4 separate regions of the Homo sapiens genome follow, and regions 2, 3 and 4 are each linked to region 1. Evidence: fine-mapped expression QTL. A gene starts in region 1. Each other region holds a variant in brackets. All regions are shown on one strand. Distances are from middle to middle.

What was found. PIP is the estimated chance that this variant, and not a neighbour inherited with it, causes the effect.
Region 2: its variant is the best candidate, but not a certain one, in a credible set for the expression of SLC25A13 in fibroblasts (GTEx, PIP 0.85).
Region 3: its variant is the best candidate, but not a certain one, in a credible set for the expression of SLC25A13 in monocytes (Fairfax 2014, PIP 0.89).
Region 4: its variant is the best candidate, but not a certain one, in a credible set for the expression of SLC25A13 in whole blood (TOPMed, PIP 0.79).

What each region holds. Positions count from the first base shown.
Region 1 is chr7:96,320,022-96,325,176 of GRCh38, forward strand. It overlaps SLC25A13 (solute carrier family 25 member 13), which reads right to left and starts at 2,077. Exons shown (of 18, transcript NM_014251.3): 1 at 1,921-2,077. The coding sequence starts at 1,935. RefSeq lists a silencer at 1,873-2,212.
Region 2 is chr7:96,145,491-96,150,645 of GRCh38, forward strand. It overlaps SLC25A13 (solute carrier family 25 member 13), which reads right to left. Exons shown (of 18, transcript NM_014251.3): 14 at 1,066-1,206. Among named protein-coding and RNA genes, the nearest start is that of MIR591, 72 kb to the right of the region's middle. The variant C/A (reference allele first, on the strand shown) is at 2,700.
Region 3 is chr7:95,819,123-95,824,277 of GRCh38, forward strand. The region is part of intron 4 of DYNC1I1 (dynein cytoplasmic 1 intermediate chain 1); the gene reads left to right. Among named protein-coding and RNA genes, the nearest start is that of DYNC1I1, 49 kb to the left of the region's middle. The variant G/A (reference allele first, on the strand shown) is at 2,755.
Region 4 is chr7:96,277,368-96,282,522 of GRCh38, forward strand. The region is part of intron 2 of SLC25A13 (solute carrier family 25 member 13); the gene reads right to left. Among named protein-coding and RNA genes, the nearest start is that of SLC25A13, 42 kb to the right of the region's middle. The variant T/G (reference allele first, on the strand shown) is at 2,476.

The DNA of each region.
Region 1 (5,155 bases):
TGAGACAGGGTCTTGCTCTGTTGCCCAGACTGGAGTGCAATGGCACAATCTCGGCTCACTGCAATCTCCGCCTCCTGAGTTTAAGCGATTCTTCTGCCTCAGCATCCTGAGTAGCTGGGATTACAGGTGCCCACCAGCACGCCTAGCTAACTTTTTTGTATTTTTAGTAGAGACAGGGTTTTGCCACGTTGGCCAGGCTGGTCTCGAACTCCTGGCCTCAACTGACCCGCCCGCCCCAGCCTCCCAAAGTGCTGGGATTACAGGCATGAGCCACAGCACCAGGTCACTTATTTTACTTAATATTACTCAAGTCTTATACTCCATTTCTATGCACACGTCTCAATTTATGTTCCTCAATTACCTTATCTCCTAATAAAGTAAAAGTATTTACATTACCTGCAGATATAAAACTAACAGTAAAGAATGGGTACCTAGTCCCACCTACTCTAGGGAATTAGTTCATACCAAGCCTTGTACCTTGGTTGCATGCAAATTTAATGCAAAAAAAAGGTCAAGGGCTATTGGGCTTGAAAGGGTTAAGGCAGCTTCCAAAATTGAATCCTAGTGATGCTCAGAGAAACTGCTGAAAAGTTATAGATAGATATACACACGCACACCTGTGTGTTCATATGCAAACATACATGAGCCCACACACCCAGAGTACTTTCCTAAGGATGAAACTCAGAGTAATTACAGAAAAGAGAAATGCCACTTAGACCACAGAAACTAACAACATGAAGAAGCCTACGGATTTGGGGAGCCTGGAGAGACTTAAGTCATAGAACAGCATTTAAATATATTTGTCTGCTTACAATTTCCATTGCAAATGTGATTAGTTTGCTTGAATAAATAGGAATATGATGTGTTGGCCATGTTTTCCTCTTGAGGGTTATCACAGAGTTTTGATTAAGGACAAATGTTTGAAATGTTAGGTATATTTAAGTTCACTGCACTTAAAATGAGCTAAGAAGTTGTATAGGCTTGATTAGAGGGCTGCCTTCGTGAACTTAAATTAAAAGCAATAAATTCCAAATGATTCAAGTGATTGGGACTAAATATGGTATTCTGCCAGAGAAGTTGAAATGCAGTCCAAAGAGACTGAAATGGTGTCCAGGTTTCAAGAAATGGTGAAAGAGGAAAGGTCAAGTGTTGGAGTTGCCTTTCCTCTGGGTTAGTGAATGATTCACATTACACAGAACCCCTTTCAAGTACAACTTCACAGGAGTGACAGGCTCCCAGGACAATCTGTTTCATCGTTCCCAAAAAGAAGCCTCTCAAATGCTCCGAGGCGGGTATCTAAGTGTTGTCAGATGGAGAGAGGGAGGGGGAAGATGGGAATGATGGGAAAGCGGGGAGGGGGAGAGTCCCTGGACTTTTTATTCACAAAGGCGCAGACCAAGTCTCCTAGGCAGTTTCCAAAACGGAAGTCAAAGTAACTTCCCCACCCGCGGGAGGGCGGAGCCCTTGAAACGTAATAGGATCAGGCTTCAGCCCGGGCTCTGGCCCCTGGAAGAAGCCGGAGTCAACAACCAGCGGGGTCAGGAGCAGGAGCGCGCTGGGAAGGTAGAGAGGACCCCCAGCGCTTGCCGGCCCAGGGTGCACCAGGCCCCAGTCGCGCCCGCTCCTCCTCGTCGGCCCTGGCTCAGCCCCGTCAGGCACCAACTTCCCTCCCCGGCCAAGTGGGAGTGTCCGGCCCACAAAGTTTCCGCTGCGAGGTCGGGCCTCGGTCTCTGCACCGACCGCCTGTGCTGCCCGGGAGGAGTGGCCCCCTCCCTCCAGCAGCCGCAAGGTGGAACGGCTGCCCGGCACCCCATTTTGCTCCGCCTGTGGCACCAACCCAGACACGTGAGCGCCCGAGCCTCTCGCACCCCCAGGCTGATCCGGCAGGCGCGCTCCCCCCGGCCTCGGGCCCGCGGTTACCTTGGCGGCCGCCATGATTCGCCCCGGTTGCGGGCGACTGCGGGACCCACTGACTGGCTGGCTGGCGTTTGGGACCCGGGCGGCTCACTTCTAGTCCCGGCGGCGGCGGCGGTGGGGGCGGCGATACGGCCAGGCAGCGTGCGTTCCTGGCCTGCCTCCCCACGCCCTCCCGCCGGCGCGGGTCATGTGGATGCTGCCCGCCCATTGGCTGGGCCCAGCCTTGGCCGCCGGGGTGCGCGTGATCCAGCGGCCTCTGCCCTGCAGCCGGGGAGGGCTCAGATCCTGGGGCAGTGGCTGGACAGGGACACGTGACCCCGCTGCGCTGTCCAGCAGCGGCGGCCTCTGCGGCGTGGGCAGAGGTAACTTGGCCGTGTGCAAGCCCGTCACCTGAGGGCAGGTGGCCCCACCAGGGAAGCTGCTGGCTTCTGCTGATACCAGGGGCTACTGGGCCCTCGGACCGATGGGAGGGGCAAGTAACGACAGATGGTGCACGGCCTGGGGAAGTTGAGAACTCCACTAGGACACATACTTTGCTGGATATTTTTTCCCCTGTGCGTTCCCTTTGAAGGAGCTCCACTTTACACTGGATCCAAAAAGACTTTGATCCAAAAGCATTGACTTAGAAGGCGAGATTGCAAATATTGCTGGCACGCCTACTTTTAGATCAAAATCGGTGAACTCTTAAGAACCCAACAAGTGAATGTAGTGCAGAACGTATATTCATGAAACTACTCCATTTCAGCCCTACCTGTTAAAACGGTAGAAGTCAAAAGGCCCGGGTCAAAAGACTTCCCCCAAATAGGCCCTACTAAAATAAATAAACAAGCATTTTAATGAAAATTTGCTTATATGACCTCCAGGCCTTACTCCTCTTCATCAGGATTTCATTCTTCTGTCCTTGTAATCAAAATTTATAAGACAGTGGTGATCAGGGAAAAGGACTTTTAATGTATTGTAGGTTGTGGATGTAATATGGCAGCAAAAAGCACTTATTACTAATCAGTTTAATTCATTAACGTTGATTGAGTGCCTTCCTACTATGTGCTAGGCACTGTGCTTGGTGCTGGAAACCCCGAAATGACTTAAGAACTGGTTCCAACCGTTAAACAGCTTCAGGGCTATTGGGAAAGAGACACATAAATGTTTACTTCAGTATAACCTGTTAAGGCAGCAGACTGTTCCCAGGGCTCAATAAGAATACTGAGAATTCTCATGCCACTATGAAGAAATACCTGAGACTGGGTAATTTATAAACCAAAAGATTTAATTGACTCAGTTTCGCATGGTTTGGGAGACCTCAGGAAACTTACAGTTGTGGTGGAAGGCACCTCTTTACAGGGTTGCAGGAGAGAGAATGAGTGCCAAGCAAAGGGGGGAAAGCCCCTTGTAAAACCATCAGATCTCATAAGAACTCACTATCACAAGAACAGCATGGGAGTAACCGCCCCCATGATTCCGTTGTCTCTCACCGGGTCCTTCCCATGACATGTGGGGATTATGGGAACTACAATTTAAGATGAGATTTGGGTAGTGACACGGTCAAACCATATCAAAAGGTAACTTGATCTTGAGCTATGGGATTGGGGCAGTGGCACGACTAGTGGAAGGAGTCTGGCCCAGCAGGTAGGGGCTGTGTCATGGTGGGTCTTAGGCGCCTTGCTGAAGGGTATGCACCTTAACTGAAGGGTTTTAAGTCAGGAAGCAGCATGACTAGGTTTTCGATATAGAAAGATCTCTCTATGGTCTGAATGTGCCCCCCAAAATTGATGTGTTGGATACAATCTCTAATGCATCAGTGTTGGAAGGTTGGGTCCTTGGGGAGGTATTTTCATCACAAGGGCTCTGCCCTCATAAATGGATTAATGCTGCCATAAAAAGAGGTTTGGGGAGTGGGTTCACTCTCTCTTGCTCTTCTGCTCTTTTGCCATATAAGAACATAGCATTCCTCACCTTTGAAGGACACAGCATTCAAAGAGCCATCTTGGAAGCAGAGAAACCAGGCCGTAACCTGCCAGCACTTTGATCTTGGACTTCCTAGCGTCTAGAACTGTGAGAAATACATTTCCGTCCTGTTCTTCTAGTCTCAGGAATTCCCTTACAGCAACACAAAATGGACTAAAACACTGCTTGCAGTATGGAGGATGGGTTCCAACTGAACTACCAGGATGTCCAGACGAGACAGGCTGGGGATGGGCTAGGACTAGAGGAATACATAGAAGGTAAAATTAGTGGGGTTGGGACGGAAAAAGGGAGTTGTGCCATATTGCACATAGACTTGTGGTATGGGTGTCTGGAAAAACACCTGAGATTGGTAATTCAAGAGGAGTGTTTTGAGGTGTGTGAGTCTGTCTGTAAGGAGAATGTATGTCCAACATACAAATTATGTTGTAGAAGCTTAAGAAAGAAGCATTACAGAAAGAAGCAACTATTTAACCTACTCTCAAAAGGTTCAACAAAGCCCAGAAGACTTGACCATGTTCATAGGCAGAGAAGAAAGATCAGCAAAAAGTAAAAAAAAAAAAAAGACAAAAGGAAAACCAGGAGAATTGTTAGAGAAAATTATGACAAGGGGACAAGTCTGAAGCTCCTGTGGAGGATGGCCCCAGCTGCCACAAGGGGAGTGTAAAAGGAGGTGAGAAAATACAACCTCATGTAAAGAACAAAATTACATCATGTACCACGTATTTATTTTTAAGGGCATCATTAAAGCTCTCCTTTTATAATGTAAATGAAACAAAAAATTTTTAATGTAATAAAATATACATAAAATGTACCATCTTGACCATTTTGAAATGTACAGTTTAGTAGTGAAATACTTTCACATTGTTGTGCAGCCAATCTCCAGAACTCTTTTCATCTTGCAAAGCTGAAACTCTGTACTCATTAAACAACCACTCCATCTCCCAACCCCCTGACAACCACCATTCTACTTTGCTCCTATAAATCTGACTACTCTAGGTACCTAATAAATGGAATCATATGGTATTTGTGTTTTGTAGCATAATGTCTTCAACCTTCATACATGTTATATAGCATGTGTCAGAATTTCCTTCCTCTTCAAGGTTGAACAATATTCCATTAATTTTTTTAATAGAAAAAGTCCATTATACTTCTTCTTGACATTTTTGAAAATTCAGAAAATCATAGTAATGGCCAAAAAATCACTGATAATCCTATCAATAGAGTTAGCCATTGTTAACATTCTACTGTATTTTTTCATGTCTTGCTGTGCTTA
Region 2 (5,155 bases), 170 kb before region 1:
TTACTCTAGCAATATGGTAAGTTGTTACATTATGGGGACCAGTTATATCCATTCAGGATTAACTGGGAATAGGAAAAAAGCAATTGACTGTCTTAATATTATGTGTCTATGGGATAAAATTTGCAGGAACAATATCATACATAAAAGTCAAAAATGCTTCAAATTACAAAGCTTGGGATAAAAATGAAGACAATGTATTCTGCAAAACCATGCTAACAGATGACCTAAAAAGTGGGTTAAATGGAGCTCAAGATGCTGATTCAAAATTCATGAATAATTTTAATATTTCTTGATATGTGTTTATAGAAACAAAGCAGTATTAATTTTATATAATGTGACTGTATACATTTCTGTGTAAATAAATGAAACTATCTTAAGTAGACATTTTATTTTTCTCCCATATCCCTAAAGGTTTACTTAGTCAAGCTAGCGTAAAATGTTTTTTTAAAAAATTCTTCATTGAAAACTTGTGTATACATTATGTTTGATAAAGCCTTATAGGTTGGCATATAGGCAGACAGTTCTAGTAAATTCCATTATAACTTTTTGGTAGAGCAGTATGAATAAAAAATTTCAAGAATCATCTAGAAGTTTGGTTTTGTAATCATTCTGAAAAAACATTTTCTAAATGAAAAATGATTAAGATTTATAATAATTAAGACAAGGCATACATATATAGAGAAAACATGGATCGGACCATATGCATAGGATCAGAAAATAAATTATGATACAGGTTTCTCCTTGAACTGAACTCAGCGTATCAATAACAAATCCAAATAAAATTCTAGCCAGTGTTGCTGCAAAGAGCTGCACTGAACAACTCTAGAGGGCACGATTCCTATCATAGTCATCCTAGATTTGTGTATTGATGAGGATAGTTTTTTGGCAGATGGCAGGAAGGGGCACCTCCTTCTAATTGGCATGAAGGTGCCTCTGCAGCTTGGGTAGAACATCTTCTCCAGGTGTAGAAATGCAAAAAAAAATGGATTTCATGTTGAAGAATAGTTTCTGCATTAGGAGATGAGAAAGTAATCAAATAAATGACTAAAAAAAAAAAAAAGTTACCTTGTAGATCCCAAAAAACCCCAGGTCCCGCACGACAGACAGAGCACTGACTCGAGGACCAGTGGTGATTTCTCCTGCCACTTGCAAACGGATCTTGACGATTTCTAAAGGATTTGTGAAAATCACCTGGGAGCCTCCAGCCTAAAAAGAACAAAAAAGATTTAGGATCAAAGCAAAGAAATGGTAAGGTGGGTCAGGAAGAGATGAATGATTATTCTCAAGGATAAAAATATTCTATCCTCAAGAGAATGTAGTTTCAGCCCTTGTCCCATCAATCAAAACGGTTAGGGATTACAAGTATGAATCAAAATACAGTTACTGCCTAGGAAGAAGCCCTATGTCCTTAATGTGGAGGCTGAAGGAGGGCAAAGACCAGAGATTTCTGTTGACCTCCCCAAGTCCTCACACTGAAATTACAAATGCTCCTTGAAGCACAAACAACTGCCACCACAGGACTCAAAGCCAAGGGCACAAAGGCAGTAATAAAATGAAAAGCATTCGTATCCAAATGAGGAGACACAGAACGTATCCAAATGAGGAGACACAGAACGTATCCAAATGAGGAGACACAGAACAGAACGGGGACTAGGAGGACAAAGGCTCTTGAATGATGAATTTCATGATTCTGGCAACGATTCAAAAACTGCCAGCGAACACGTAAACTTAGATGAAAGTTATTATTTTTTTCTCTTAGAAACTCAAGTCAATCATCAAATCTCATTTTATGGAGTTACATATTCTTAAAATTTTTGTTTATGTATTACTTGTGTACAGAATTGCTCTTTTCATATGAGATAAGTGGTATATGAAAGTAGCAAAAATATGCACTAAGTCAATTACCAACCAAACTTTGAACATCGTGTGTTATTTCATTCCAGCAATGGCTAGATGCCTCACCTCCAAGATCATCAGTGAAATCTTTAAAGTACACTATAAGGGAAATTTTAAGCTAGCTATTTTGAAGCTAAGCCTATATTTATCACAAGCAATTACATTCTTTCTTACTGTACTTCAACTTGTTATTCCTTGTCACACATATATGAAATTTTTATATCATCCAAACTATACTGTACTAATTAGAACTAGCTACAAGGATGGCCTTTGAAGTATTATTTATAAAAGCTGGAAAGAAAAATTAGAAACAACATAAATATCTAATGGTAAGGGATGGGTTAAATGAACTTGAGTATGTTCATGCATGGAGATACTATGCAGTCAACAGTGAAAAATGTTCAATATATACTTTTAAGTAAAAATGCTCATATGTTTAAAATACTGGTACACATTTCCCCCTGCCATCCCCTACCACCATGTGGAAGAAATACACCAAAGTGGTGCTTCTGAAGTGGTGGGATTACAAGTATCTTTCTTTTCCTTTTTTTTTTTTGATGTATTTGAAATTTTTTCTATATAGATCATGTGTGACTTCCATAAAGAAAAATAAACACCTATACACAGTTTACCTAATATGTGTAATGTTAATGAAAAGAATCAAAGAAAGATGTTCGTTCATTAACTCTCTAAATCAAATTGTTTTTCCATTTTTACCAACTTGATACCTTAATCAAGTCACTCTTGTTCTTCCTTAAGTGCAAATGAATTTTTTGTTTGGGTTGGGGGACAACACAAAATAC[C/A]AACCTGGGTTGGATTCACTGAAAGGCCCAAGAAAGGGCCTTAGTCTAGGAAGTAGAGTGTGAGATGATACACCCACAGGCTGGTGCATTCTGGTCCACACAAAGACGTGCTGCTCCCCGCCCTACTGCTCAGAACAGCTCTGTTTTGCTCAGATGCTGCTGCTGCAACCTGCAGGTCCATGAGAAGAACAACTCCCTGGTTGTTTACAGCCCGTGAGTGTTTTGTGAATTTGCACCTACATTTCCCATGTGATATGGACTCAGCTATTTACGGTTGGCAGAATGATGAGTTGAAACACACCTAACCAAGTAACCATGTGAGAGGCACGGTAAGGATTTTCTCTGTGTTTCTGAACCAGAACTCTTCATACGAAAATCTTATGAATAGTTAGAAAAATGAATAGAAATTTAAAATGTAAAGATTGTTTTATGGGGGTAGAATTGCTGAGAAAGATTCACCAGGTTGGAATTAGCCTGAAGCCTGATTTTTTGAAGCTCAAAAGAGGGTAAGACCATCTCTATCCAGGGTAAAATGCAAAGTAATCAGAGAAACCAGTCTTCTTGGAAGAGAGAAGAGGCATACAATGCATATTCATCCAAGCACTGCCAACAGCAGGGAAGGAGGCAGTTGAGTGTCCCACATGAAGGCAGAGCTTCGGTCTCCCTATTTGTCAAACCATCTCACTTACTATGAAGATAAAAAGAGATGGAGAATGTACAGGAGCCAGCACAGTGCTCAAGACAGAGCCTTTACTCCAGTTGGTTTCTTTCCCTTTTTCTCCTACGCTGATGTTTTCCTCCATAGATGCATGTTACAATCACTTGCAGACCTTTTTAAAATATAGTGACCTCTGGACTTCAGTCCTGACAGTTTAATAAGAATTTCTGCATCTGTCCTTGCTAAAATTTTCCTATGAGATTACCATGTGCAGTGAGGCTGAGAATCCCTGCACTACACCATCTGCACTACACCATCTCTAGAATCTCTGTCAATTCTGAGAATCAGCTTAACTGGCTTCTTGAATGCCACAGTTTCTAATCCCAGTCTTCCATATCATTTCACGAATAACTTTTATTTGTTTTACATCTGATCTCACAACAAACTCTTTCTACATATCCAAGTGGTGCTGTTATGAAAGGGTACAATTCTTAGGTACGGAATTGTCTTATTATCTCTTATCTTTACTAACACTGGTAAAAGTTGCTAGCATTATATACAATAAAACAAGAACTTACACTCAACTCCCTGACTCCAAGCCAACCAACAGATAACAATTCTTTTAAAGCAGAGTTAGTTATCACTAGGGATGATGAGGAGTCAAATCCACTTCAGAGAGCTGCAGGAGGCAGATGCACGGGGAAGAAAGAATGTAGTGATATCAAGAAAACATAATGATGTACCCATTATCTGTGGTGGCCTCTGAAAGAAAGAACCTACAGACTCAAAGTGGCACATTGTAAAGGTGCTGAAGATGAAACAGGCCCTTTGGAGTCGAACTGGAAGGAAATGAGAGACTCCAAGGCACCAAGAGAAGATGCTTATCATCAGATGCATGGTGTCTGGGTCTCTCCACGACTTGATCACTGAGCAGCACACTGCGTGCCGCTCTTCCAATTCCTGGTCTATTATGCATTCACAGTACCATACCCATGGTTCCTCTTTTGCAGAGATCAAAGATAGCTGAATCGGCAGACAATGGACAGGAACACCTATTGTGCACAATGTCTTTGCGTCCCTCATCACTTGAAAGCTCTGGCTGTGTGAAGATACTGTTTTTTTTGTGTGTGTGCAATTTTGTCACAAATCATTTCCCTATGACTTACTGGAGTCTGTGGCAAGTAGGACATGGGAAAATATTCCATACTGAACTGGCTCAGTGTGGCATATTATATTTACAGCGGTAACACTGACTTTTCTACATGTTTCCTGGTATACTCTTTGTTATTGAAATCTTAGTTATCATCTAGTATCTGGATCCATCTAAGAGAGAAAGAGAAATGCATACAATTATTATAGACTCACTTCTGCTATTTGATTTTTCATTCACCAAATATTTATAAGCAATTCAAAGTTTGTCCTAGAACTGCAAGGACACAAGATGCTTTATTCTCATTCTCAAGAAGCTTGAAGTAGTAAGGGTAGAAGTCATGAATATTCATTAAACATCTATTATGGGGTATTAAGGTGTTGCTTTGCATATATTACATATTTTCAGTCCACTCAAGAGGTACTTTTTGCAGATTTTACATAAGAGGAAATTGAAGCACAGAAAGATTAAAGCAACTGTTATGGGCTGAACTGTGTTCTACCAAAAGTCATAGTTGAAGTCCTAACTCTCAAATATTTCAGAATGTGACTATAGTTGGAAACAGGGCCTTTAAAAGAGAAATTAAGTTAAAAAGAGGTCTTTAGGGTGGGACGTAATCCCATCCAACTGGTTTGTTACAAGAAGAGA
Region 3 (5,155 bases), 500 kb before region 1:
GGAATGGATTAAAAGTCTCTTAGGCTTTCAGCTTCATGTGAATTTCAGATTAGAATTCAGGGACAAAGGGACAGATTTCTTCAATGTTCTCTCTTCAGCTTGGATACTGGGCCTCCATATAGTTACTATTCAGTTTCTTATTGACAGAAAGCTTTGGTTAAATTTAGATACTTGTTTTTGGGCTACAATAATTCGTTGTGGGCAACTTGTCCTGTCTGCATGTAGTTACTACTTTTTTTTTAGTGACTTCAGGAAAGAAAAATGTGTTCTGGGGCCACATGGACATAATACTCAAAGGAAATCCTTAGGACCTTCACCTTTATCCACAGTCAGATTCTGCAGGATTCTTTGGAACTATGTAGGCCTCAAAGGACTTGACCCATTTGGGTGAAAGCATCATCATCTTCTAAGATGCTCTGATAAATCAGAGGCTAAAGGGAAGTCATAAAGGAAGTATTAGTAAAGGTGAAAAGTGTAATAAATAATACAAGATTATGGGGGAAATTTAATAAGACTATTAAAATTTTGCTTATACAAAAAAATTTTAAAGTATCATTATATAAAGAGAGATTGACAGGATGCTACCAGCCAATTCGACTTTGGGGAGACTGAAGTCGCTAATTCAAGGTTGGTTAAAAGTCAGTCTCTTTGTAAATTAAAATAAGATTTACACTATAGGGTTTTCTCTTTATGCAGCACAATAAGTTCAAAATTTTTAATATCATTGTCTTCAGGCAAAGTGTGCTCTATGTACCCATATGGTTATAGTAACACAGTAAGCATCTATTTTAGGAAAGGGTAGCTGAGCTTTCTTCTAGAGAAACTGCTTGCTTGACAGCAGGACTTTTGTGTAAGATTTTGGGAAAACATGCTCTTGTTCTATGATGGGAAGTCCTACATTTCTTATTGAATCCAGCTCAGATGGACTTCCCATGTGGCTTAGTGTGGCTCGCTCTGGAGCTCCATATTAGGGCTCAGGTGTTAGCCAACAGATGGAAAATTCTCCCACCATAAATTAAGAAAAATGCTTTTTAAAAAGAGCCTGATATAAGTATGTATTTCACTGTTCCACATTTATTTCTGACATCAGAAAATCTTTATCATCATTGCCAGTCCTAAGTAAGGAAAAAATTGAGGCCAGGAAATAAAACATTAACTCATTATTTGAATACCATCCTTTCTTAATTAACATCACTTTAATGAATGTGACAGATGAGTGATATGATGGATTTTAAAATGTCCTTATTATTTCATGTATTACTTTTGGAAACGGCATTTTAAAAATTAGATATTTAGCGATGGCATTGACTAGATATTTTCTGTTTGGCACTATGCTTACATAATCCCAAACTGTTTGCACTGGCTGATTAATCACTAGTGATTTGTTTGACAGAGAAGACATGTGGAACAAGAGCTCAGAGAAACTGTGCGACTCAGGAAATCTCTGTATTCTGTCCTTGAGCTCTCTCTCCATCTTAGAGAGAAAAGGAAGAACATGAAAATTTGAGTTCCAGTGCAGTTGCTTCAGGGACTAATTAAAGTTACTAAATTCACTTGGTAGAGAAGATGGCTGGACCGCTTTTGTTTTTCACCACAAATCAGCAATATGTTGAGCATTTTAAAAATAATAATATTCATAGAGACAGGGTCTCGCTATGTTACCCAGGCTGGTCTTGAACTCCTGGTCTCAAGTGATCCTCCTGCCTCGGCCTCCCAAAGCTCTGGGATTACCGGCATGGGCCATCATGGCCGGCCAGTGGTCAGCATTTTTATTAGATAAGATATGCTTTCCTTCTTCAGTATGGAAGTGAGTCTGAAAACTCTCCTGCGGCCATGTAGTGACATCACGCTGAGTAAGACTGAGTTTTCCATAAATGCTTTGATGGATATTAAGGGATTTAGGGAGACATGCCCTGATTTATTATTTCATTTTTTAATAAAAACGTAAAAACTGTTTCTTTTGGAATCAACTTGCCCTCACACGTCACACCCATCTACAGAAAAGCCAGGTAAAGAATATTCATTTGTTCATTCATTCATCAAGTCATTCAGTAAACAATTGAGAATTTATTGTCTATCAGATACTATACTAGACTTTCAAGGAATATAAATATTCTTCTTACTTCTAAAGAGCAAGTAAATTGACACATTTAATTTGAATCTAAGGAAATGTTGCTGTGTAGTTACAGCTCTCAAATATGCATACTCAGAGAAGAGCTCAATGGTAATGAGGACTTTGGGGTTATTTTGCAGAAGATATATGGACGTCTGTGTGATTGCCTGGGGTTAGAGTAGAAAGGTGAGGGGAGAAGATAGAATCCTGGTTGGAGAATGCCTGTCTTTATTGGAATGGAAAGAGCAAGGGTACTGCCAAAAACACAGTGAGAGAGGGAGGAAAAGAAATAAGATTTTCAGGGCCAAGAAAACTAAAAGAAAGACTATGCCAAGAAGGAGCCAATAGTGACCAAAATCAGAGACAGCAAAGATAAGGAACAAGAACCGACCATGGGATTTGATGATTTGGAGGTGGTTGTCGTCATCATTATAATCATCATTATCATTTTTTGTTATTATTATTATTATTATTGACGCTGTTTTATTTTCATAGGCTGAGGTCCTGGGAGCAAAACTAGTCCAGGAGTAATTCTATTTTTTATGTTCCTGCCATATATTGGCATATTACTTCCCAAAGAACTTTACTAATTTAAATGCTACCAACAGTGTATGAGACTGCCTTAGCCACATTGAGTGTTA[G/A]CATTATAAATGAGAAATTTGTTAACTACTGCCTTCCAAATATTTATTGAACATCTCTTTCTTATAGCCAAAGACTAGAAAAGGTAAGAACAAAAACACTCTTTAGGAAATAATTCTAAGGTTTTCTGCTCTGAGGTCTAATAAGATGGAAAGAAGAATGGAAACCACCAACTTGTTGTTGGTAAAAGCTGAATGGGAAGAAATTGACCACTCATCAGAGTGCAAGGTATATGCAACACAGACATTATGTCTTTCACTCCTAAGTTACACTTTCAACAGATGGCCAAGGATATTTTAAAATTTTCACTTCTTTCTGTCTCATAAACTGAAACTGAGCAAATAAAATTGAGCCAATGAAAGGGGAATTTTATAAGAAATTAAAAAGTAATGAATTGGTACAAGGTTTAAAATATGAAATGAAATTCTGCTTGTCTCTTAGTTGGTTACGGCTAGTTTGAAGAATTTTGATGTTTGCCTATTCTTTTTTAAAAATATTGAAAAACAAATTGACCCACAAATTATAAATTAACTACTACATGGTAGGCATTTTTGTATAAGGTGCCAGAGGCTACAATGTTTTTGATATGTTCAAGGTTAAATAAGTGAGTATTTTCCATGTTGGGAAGCTTCTGTATTTTGAAATGAAGTTAGGAAATGTGACCTTAATTGGCATGTCCAAAACAGCCAATCCAACCCTGGGACCATAGAACCGTAACAGTGCCTGTTGGTCCAGAGTAGGTACAGAATTATTGGGTTACTTAGCTTCTGAACACATAATAGGGCTCCTATGAAACAGAGATCAGAGATCCCACCTAGACAGAACCTCAGAAAGTTAGCCTAAGAAATCAATTGAAACTAATCAGAGCAGCCAAATGCAACTCATAAAAATAAGCAAACAAACAACACCAGGATGGTTCCCCAGCGGGGAATACTGACGGAAATTTAACTGACATAGTTAAAGAAAGATTGTATCAAACAACAAAGGCTAGGTTGGTCATCCCAGGAATTCCAGAAAGGGGAGACTTGGGTAGCAGTGAGGATGATGTCTGGTCTTGGGGAAAGATAAGGTCATGGTGGGGGAGGGCAGGGGAAGCTGTCGTAGTTAAACATTCAGCATCACCTACTCTAGTCCCAAAGATACTGCTGGACATCTGGCTTCCCAGGAAGCTGGGCTTCAAGGAGAGAAGACTTTGTTAGGCTTATATATTTGTCTGCCTGGTTATTATTGTTCTCACAACAAATTGCTAAGTTGGCATCTAAAATATAGCAGTCTTATAAGACCTAGTGGACTACCTCAGCCACCTAAGTCCAATAAACTAAGCACTGAGGAAAATGAATTTAGGCCCAAATCCTATCCCCTCCTCCAAGACCAGGTCAAATGGAATCTCTAATCTTTTCAGTGGAATTGTGTCTCCCTGCTGTGACTTCCAAAGGATGATGAAACTGCAGTCCAATGCCTGGCTGGCTGGCACGGAGCAAACACTAAGTGAAGGGAAATTATAACAATCACCATTCTTAATCTGTCTTTCCTATGGCATTTATTAATATTTTCAGCTCATATTTATTCAAACTTTAAACTGTGCCAGTCTCTGAGCAAGTGATGAGAGCTACTTTCTTCCTTGTAGATGTTATCGGTATATTATTAGGCATAAATATTCATATGTCTCATTTCTTTTACCAAAATGGAAAAGTCTTAAGTGCAAGTTCCATGTCCCTCAGCATACATGTGGTACTGCCGGGTAGGGGAAGCTGTCATAGTTAAACATTCAGCATCACCTACTCTAGTCCCAAAGATACTGCTGGACATCTGGCTTCCCAGGAAGCGGGGCTTCAAGGAGAGAAGACTTTGTCAGGTTTACATATTTGTCTGCCTGGTTATTATTGTTCTCACAACAAATTGTTAAGTTGGCATCTAAAATATAACAGTCTTATAAGACCTAGTGGACTAACTCAGCCACCTAAGTCCAATAAACTAAGCACTGCGGAAAATGAATTTAGGCCCAAATCCTACCCCTCCTCCAAGACCAGGTCAAATGGAATATGGCAAGTTTTACTTTCAGATTTGTTCTACTAAACTATATATATATATATATATATATATATGTTTTGGTTTTTTGTTTTTTTTTTTTTTTTTGAGGCAGGGTCTTACTGTCACCCAGGCTGGAGTGCAGTGGCATGATCTCAGCTCACTGCAACCTCCACTTCCCAGGCTCAAGCTGTCCTCCCACCTCAGCCTCCTGAGTAGCTGCGACCACAGGCGAGCACCACCATACCCGGCTAATTTCTGTATTTTTTTGTAGATGCAGAGTTTCGTCGTGTCGCCCAGGCTGGTCTTGGAACCCGTGGGCTTCAGCAATCTGCCTGCCTTGGCCTTCCAAAGTGCTGGGCTTACAGGCATGAG
Region 4 (5,155 bases), 43 kb before region 1:
ATATATTTGATTTTCAACAGTATATAATCATGAGAGTGATATGTGAAAAAGTTGAAAATATCCAAACGATAAAATATCAGATATGATCATGTACGCTTCATAATGACCATTATCTCCCAACAGTTCAAAGAAAAAACAAGTCAAGTTTTATGTTTATAAACTTAACTGGGAGCAATGTTTTCCCACAGGGACACTTGGCAATATCTGATGGCAATTAAGATTGTCATAACATGTGAGGAAGGGTGCTACTGGCTCCAGCAGGTAGAGGCCAGGGATGTTGCTAGACATCCAACAATACACAGGATGACTCCCTGCAACAGACAGTTCTCCAGCCCAAAGTGTGGGCAGTGTCCAGGTTCAGAAACCCTGGTTTATAGAAATTTGGAAAGACAAACTATGTCTTGTTTTTTAGCAAAGGCACATAGCTTTTTAAAAAAAAAAAAAAAGTGGAATTACGAAGTCATGGAGGCAAACAACCTAATTCCTTTGCCCCATTCCTGCTTTAAGAGCATCAATGATACAAGAAAGGATGGCAAACAAGCTAAGCTGGACAGCAAACTACTAAGTGCGTGTCATCTTGGGCAATCTTATGGAGGGAGGCAGTAAATGCTGCTCTAGTTACTGTCCTCTCCATTCTAAGGCATTACCATGCAGAAATGCTCAGTAAGAATTAGGTGGCAAACAACGCTTCCTCACAGTGTTCTCCTAGGTCTGGCCTTTAATGTGATACACTCCAGCCTGGATAAGAGAGAGCCCATTAATTTCTGTTGCATGGAGCCCTAAGGGCAGAAATGCTGAGAAACGACATGGGATCATGTGGTGTCCTTATGAAGCAGGAGACGGCCTCTTGATCCTGGGGACAAAGCAGTGGTTTGGGGACTGAGGAGGCAAGGATAGTGCATCTACAAGAACAAGCCTAGCTGGGTGATAAGAACCACACTGGTAGCCATAGTGATGGAGGGTGCGCAGTGAAGTGCCAGGGCAGTGTCTCCCCTCTCTCTCTAATCTGAGTTAAACCTGATTAAAACTGTTTTTAAAAGTCACTTGTTATTTCTACATTTTAATTCCAATGCAGACTAAGGCTTTGCTCAGATACTCAGTAGTAATATGCTTTGGCATCCCACGGGTCTGGACTGTGCCTCTTACCACTTGAATGGCCTCAGGTAAGTAACTAAAGCTTTTGGTACCTCTGGTTCCTCATTTGCAAAATGAATAGAATAACATTACAGCTTCATAAGACTGATGCTAGAAATATTTAAATGAGATACTCATGTCATATACTTAGCACAACGCCCTATACACAATAAGTACTTTATATTAAATAAATGTTCTATAGTATTGTCTTACAGTTAACATTTTTTTTAGCACACTACAAGGGAAAGGCTCAAAGATGCCCCAGTGATCCTACTATTCTTCAGTTAGCATTTAATTCGGCTTTTTGGACATGTAAAGAATTATATTTTGATTTTCCTAACTGAGCCAAAACAAGATGAAAATATAAAGGAAATATCACTGCTAATTACAGCAATCTTATGACTTAGTAATTATACCTAAGTTTGCCCCTGATAGTGAATAATTTATTTTACTATACAATTTAACTTTTCTCCTACCAGTAGACATTTCCAGTTTTTTGTATTTTTAAATAAAGCTAAGGTAGTAAGCTTTGAATATAACATTTGTCCAAATTCCTGGCAATTTTCAAAGGCTAGGCTCCCAGAAGAGAAATTGTTGAGTCAAAGGAGAGGAACTTCTGGGCTCTTGGTACTTATTATCACACTGCTCTCCGGAAAAGATTGTACCAATTTACACTCCCACCAACAGTGTGTGAACATGCCCTTTACTCACTTTGGTCTATTATATTTGTTGCAAATATTTTTCCAGTTTGATATTTTTATATAATTGAGTGTATAGAATTTTTTTCTCCTTTGAAATTTCTTCCATTACTTTTCTAAGCTTAGACACTAGCTGTATTAGTCTGTTCTTACACTGCTAATAAAGACATACCTGCGACTGGGTAATTTATAAATAAAAAGAGGTTTAATGGACTCACAGTTCCACATGGCTGGGAGGCCTCACAATCATGGTGGAAGGCGAATGAGGAGCAAAGTCACATCTTAACATGGCGGTAGGCAAGAGAGCTTGTGCAGGGGAACTCCCATTTATAAAACCATCAGATCTCATGAGACTTATTCACTACTACGAGAACAGTATGAGGGAAACCACCCCCATGACTCAATGATCTCCACCTGGCTCCACCCTTTAAATGTGGGGATTATTACAATTTAAGGTGAAATTTGGGTGGGGACACAGCCAAGCCATATCACCAGTCTTTCTTCATTTCAAGACTAAATATCAGAGAGTTTATCTGAGTTTTTTTAAAGTAGGTTTATCTTTTACCTTTAAGTTTTAGTACATTAGTACTTTATCTTTGTGTGTGATCTAAGGTAAGAATCCCCCAACTTTAATTTTTCCACT[T/G]AATCTCTTGGTTGTCCCACGAACACAAAGCAAATCATTCTCTCTTCCAGGTCTTTAGGATGCCATGTTTATCACATACTTAATTATCATATGGTCACCAGGGAAAGGCGTGACAAAATGGCTCCATCTGCAGTACCAGTTCTGATGAACTGGCAAAGGCTTCCTAGGGCCAACATGTATTCTGAGGCTGACCTACGCTCCATGGGAGAATGCTGGGATCGAATGACAGCTCTTGTCATCACTGCAGTCAGAGATGTTTCAGGACCATCCTTTTCAATTGTCTCGTCTACTCTTGCAAGATTACATGCTATAACTAGAGGGAAAGTTCTGTTAGGACAGAATTTTTTTTCTCTCATTTTTACTGCTGTGTCCTCAAATTCCCAGACTAGTACCTGGTAGATAGTGAAACATGTTCAAATAAATATTTTTTTAAAAGAATGAAAGGTTTAAAAAAGACATTGAATTATTTTACACTTGGAAATTTTTTTGGCCATGATCACTCCTTGATTTTCCACAAATGACCTTTAGAATCATTATCAAGTTGCTGCTCCCTAAAAAAATTCCACTGAAATGCAAAATAAAACAATGCAAGGCAGGGCACACTGACTCATGCCTGTCATCCCAGCACTTTGGGAAGCCAAGGTGGGCAGATCGCTTGAGCCCAGGAGTTCAAGACCAGCCTGGGCAAGATGGCGGAACTCCATCTCTACAAAAAATAAAAAATTAACCAGGTAGGGTAACGTGCACCTGTAGTCCCAGCTACTTGGGAGACTGAGGCAGGAGAATCGCTTGAGCACAAAAGATTGAGGCTGCAGTGAGCCATGTTTGCATCACTATACTCCAGCCTGGGCAACAAAGTGAGACCCTGTCTCAAAACATAAAACAAAAAGCCTACAATGCAATACCATGCCATACCCCCAAGATAACGAAAAAGAATAATAAGTGATGGCAAAAATGTGGAGCAAATGTTACTCTCACACACTGATGGTATGAGAATAAAGGAGTAAACCATTTTAGAAAAATGCTGGGCAGTATCTGCTATAGCTGAACATACAACCACAAGCCCACCAATTTCAATCAGAAGTATATCACCAACAGAAGTGTGCATATACACAAAAACTATGTGAAAATGCCCACAGCGGCATTATTTGTAGTATCCAAAAAACTAAAAATAACACAAATGTCAACCAATAGTAGGATACATTAATGGCTTGTGGTGAATTCACACAATGGAATACAACACAGCAATGAGAAAAAACTAACTCCAGCTGGGCACGGCATCTCACATCTGTAATCCCAGCACTTTGGGAAGCCAAGGCAGGTGGATCACCTAAGGTCAGGCGCTTGAGACCAGCCTGGCCAACATGGTGAAACCCCGTCTGTACTAAAAATACAAAAATTACCCAGGCATGGTGGCACAGGCCTGTAATCCCAGCTACTCAAGAGGCTGAGGCAGGAGAATCGCTTGAACCCGGGAGGCAGAAGTTGCAGTGAGCTGAGACCGCCCCATTGCACTCCAGCCTGGGCAACAAGTGCAAAACTCCATCTCAAAAAAAAAAAAAAAAAAGAATAAACTAACTCCAACTACATATGACAACAGACGAATCCTAAGGGTAAAAGAAAAGAAACATAAGAAAACCTAGCGTATAATTCCATTCACGCAAAGTGAAATAAACAGGCAAAACTTACATACAGTTAGTTTTAACATACAGTGACCAGAATTCAGACAACTGGTTACCCTTGGTGGGTGCTGATCAGAAGGGGCATCAGAGGGCCTCTGGGATGCTCGTTACATGGGCCTACTCACTTTCTGAGTATTCATGGCTGTACATTTGTGATGTATGCATTCAATTTATATTTCAACAGTTTACATTTTAGAAGTCTTTGAGAGATATTATCAGCTTCATTTTTTTAGATGCAATAAAGAAATCATTTCTTAAATATAAGAGCATGTTAATCTGGGCACAGAAATAGTTTTCTCCAGTTTTTAAAACAAGCTCATCACCACGGCTGGGCAGTCTGCTCTGTGATTTAAGTAAACATGTCAAAGGTTGCTCCTTAGGATTGATGGACAGAGGCAGACCATAATAAAAATATGTATGAGGGTAGTGATAAATGCAGCTCTGCTCTCCCTGCAGCAGTGAGCAGAGGGTCCCTATAGGGGGAACGGACTATATCCTTATATCCACCACATCTTTAAAATGTCATTAATCCTTCTTTGGGAATATTTTTCACTAGTGAGCTGAAGCCTTCCTCCCTTGCAATTTTCAGGAGTTTTATTATGATTAAACATACACCTGCAAAATGGGAAGAGTTTTAGGATTCCTCATGCAACCTTGTATAATACTTATTGTCATCACCAAGAAATACCACCATACTCAGTGAAGATGACAGCAAAGGAAACCAGAAGGAACCTATCACTACAAATGCCCATACCCCGAGGGCAGGGGTCCTATCTGGCCTGCTCACCATCAGTCACAGTAAATTGATAAAGGTTTGTAAGCTGTGAATGAGCCAGGGTAGAACCATAATCATCCAGCTACCCATTTTGTCATGAATCACTCATATCCTGGGACTGAAGGACAAATCCCCTACATTGTTTTCCAACCACTGAGAAGGTGCACACAACAGGTCACTGCATCTGCCCATCCTTTACTTTGATTCCCTGTTATAGGGATGG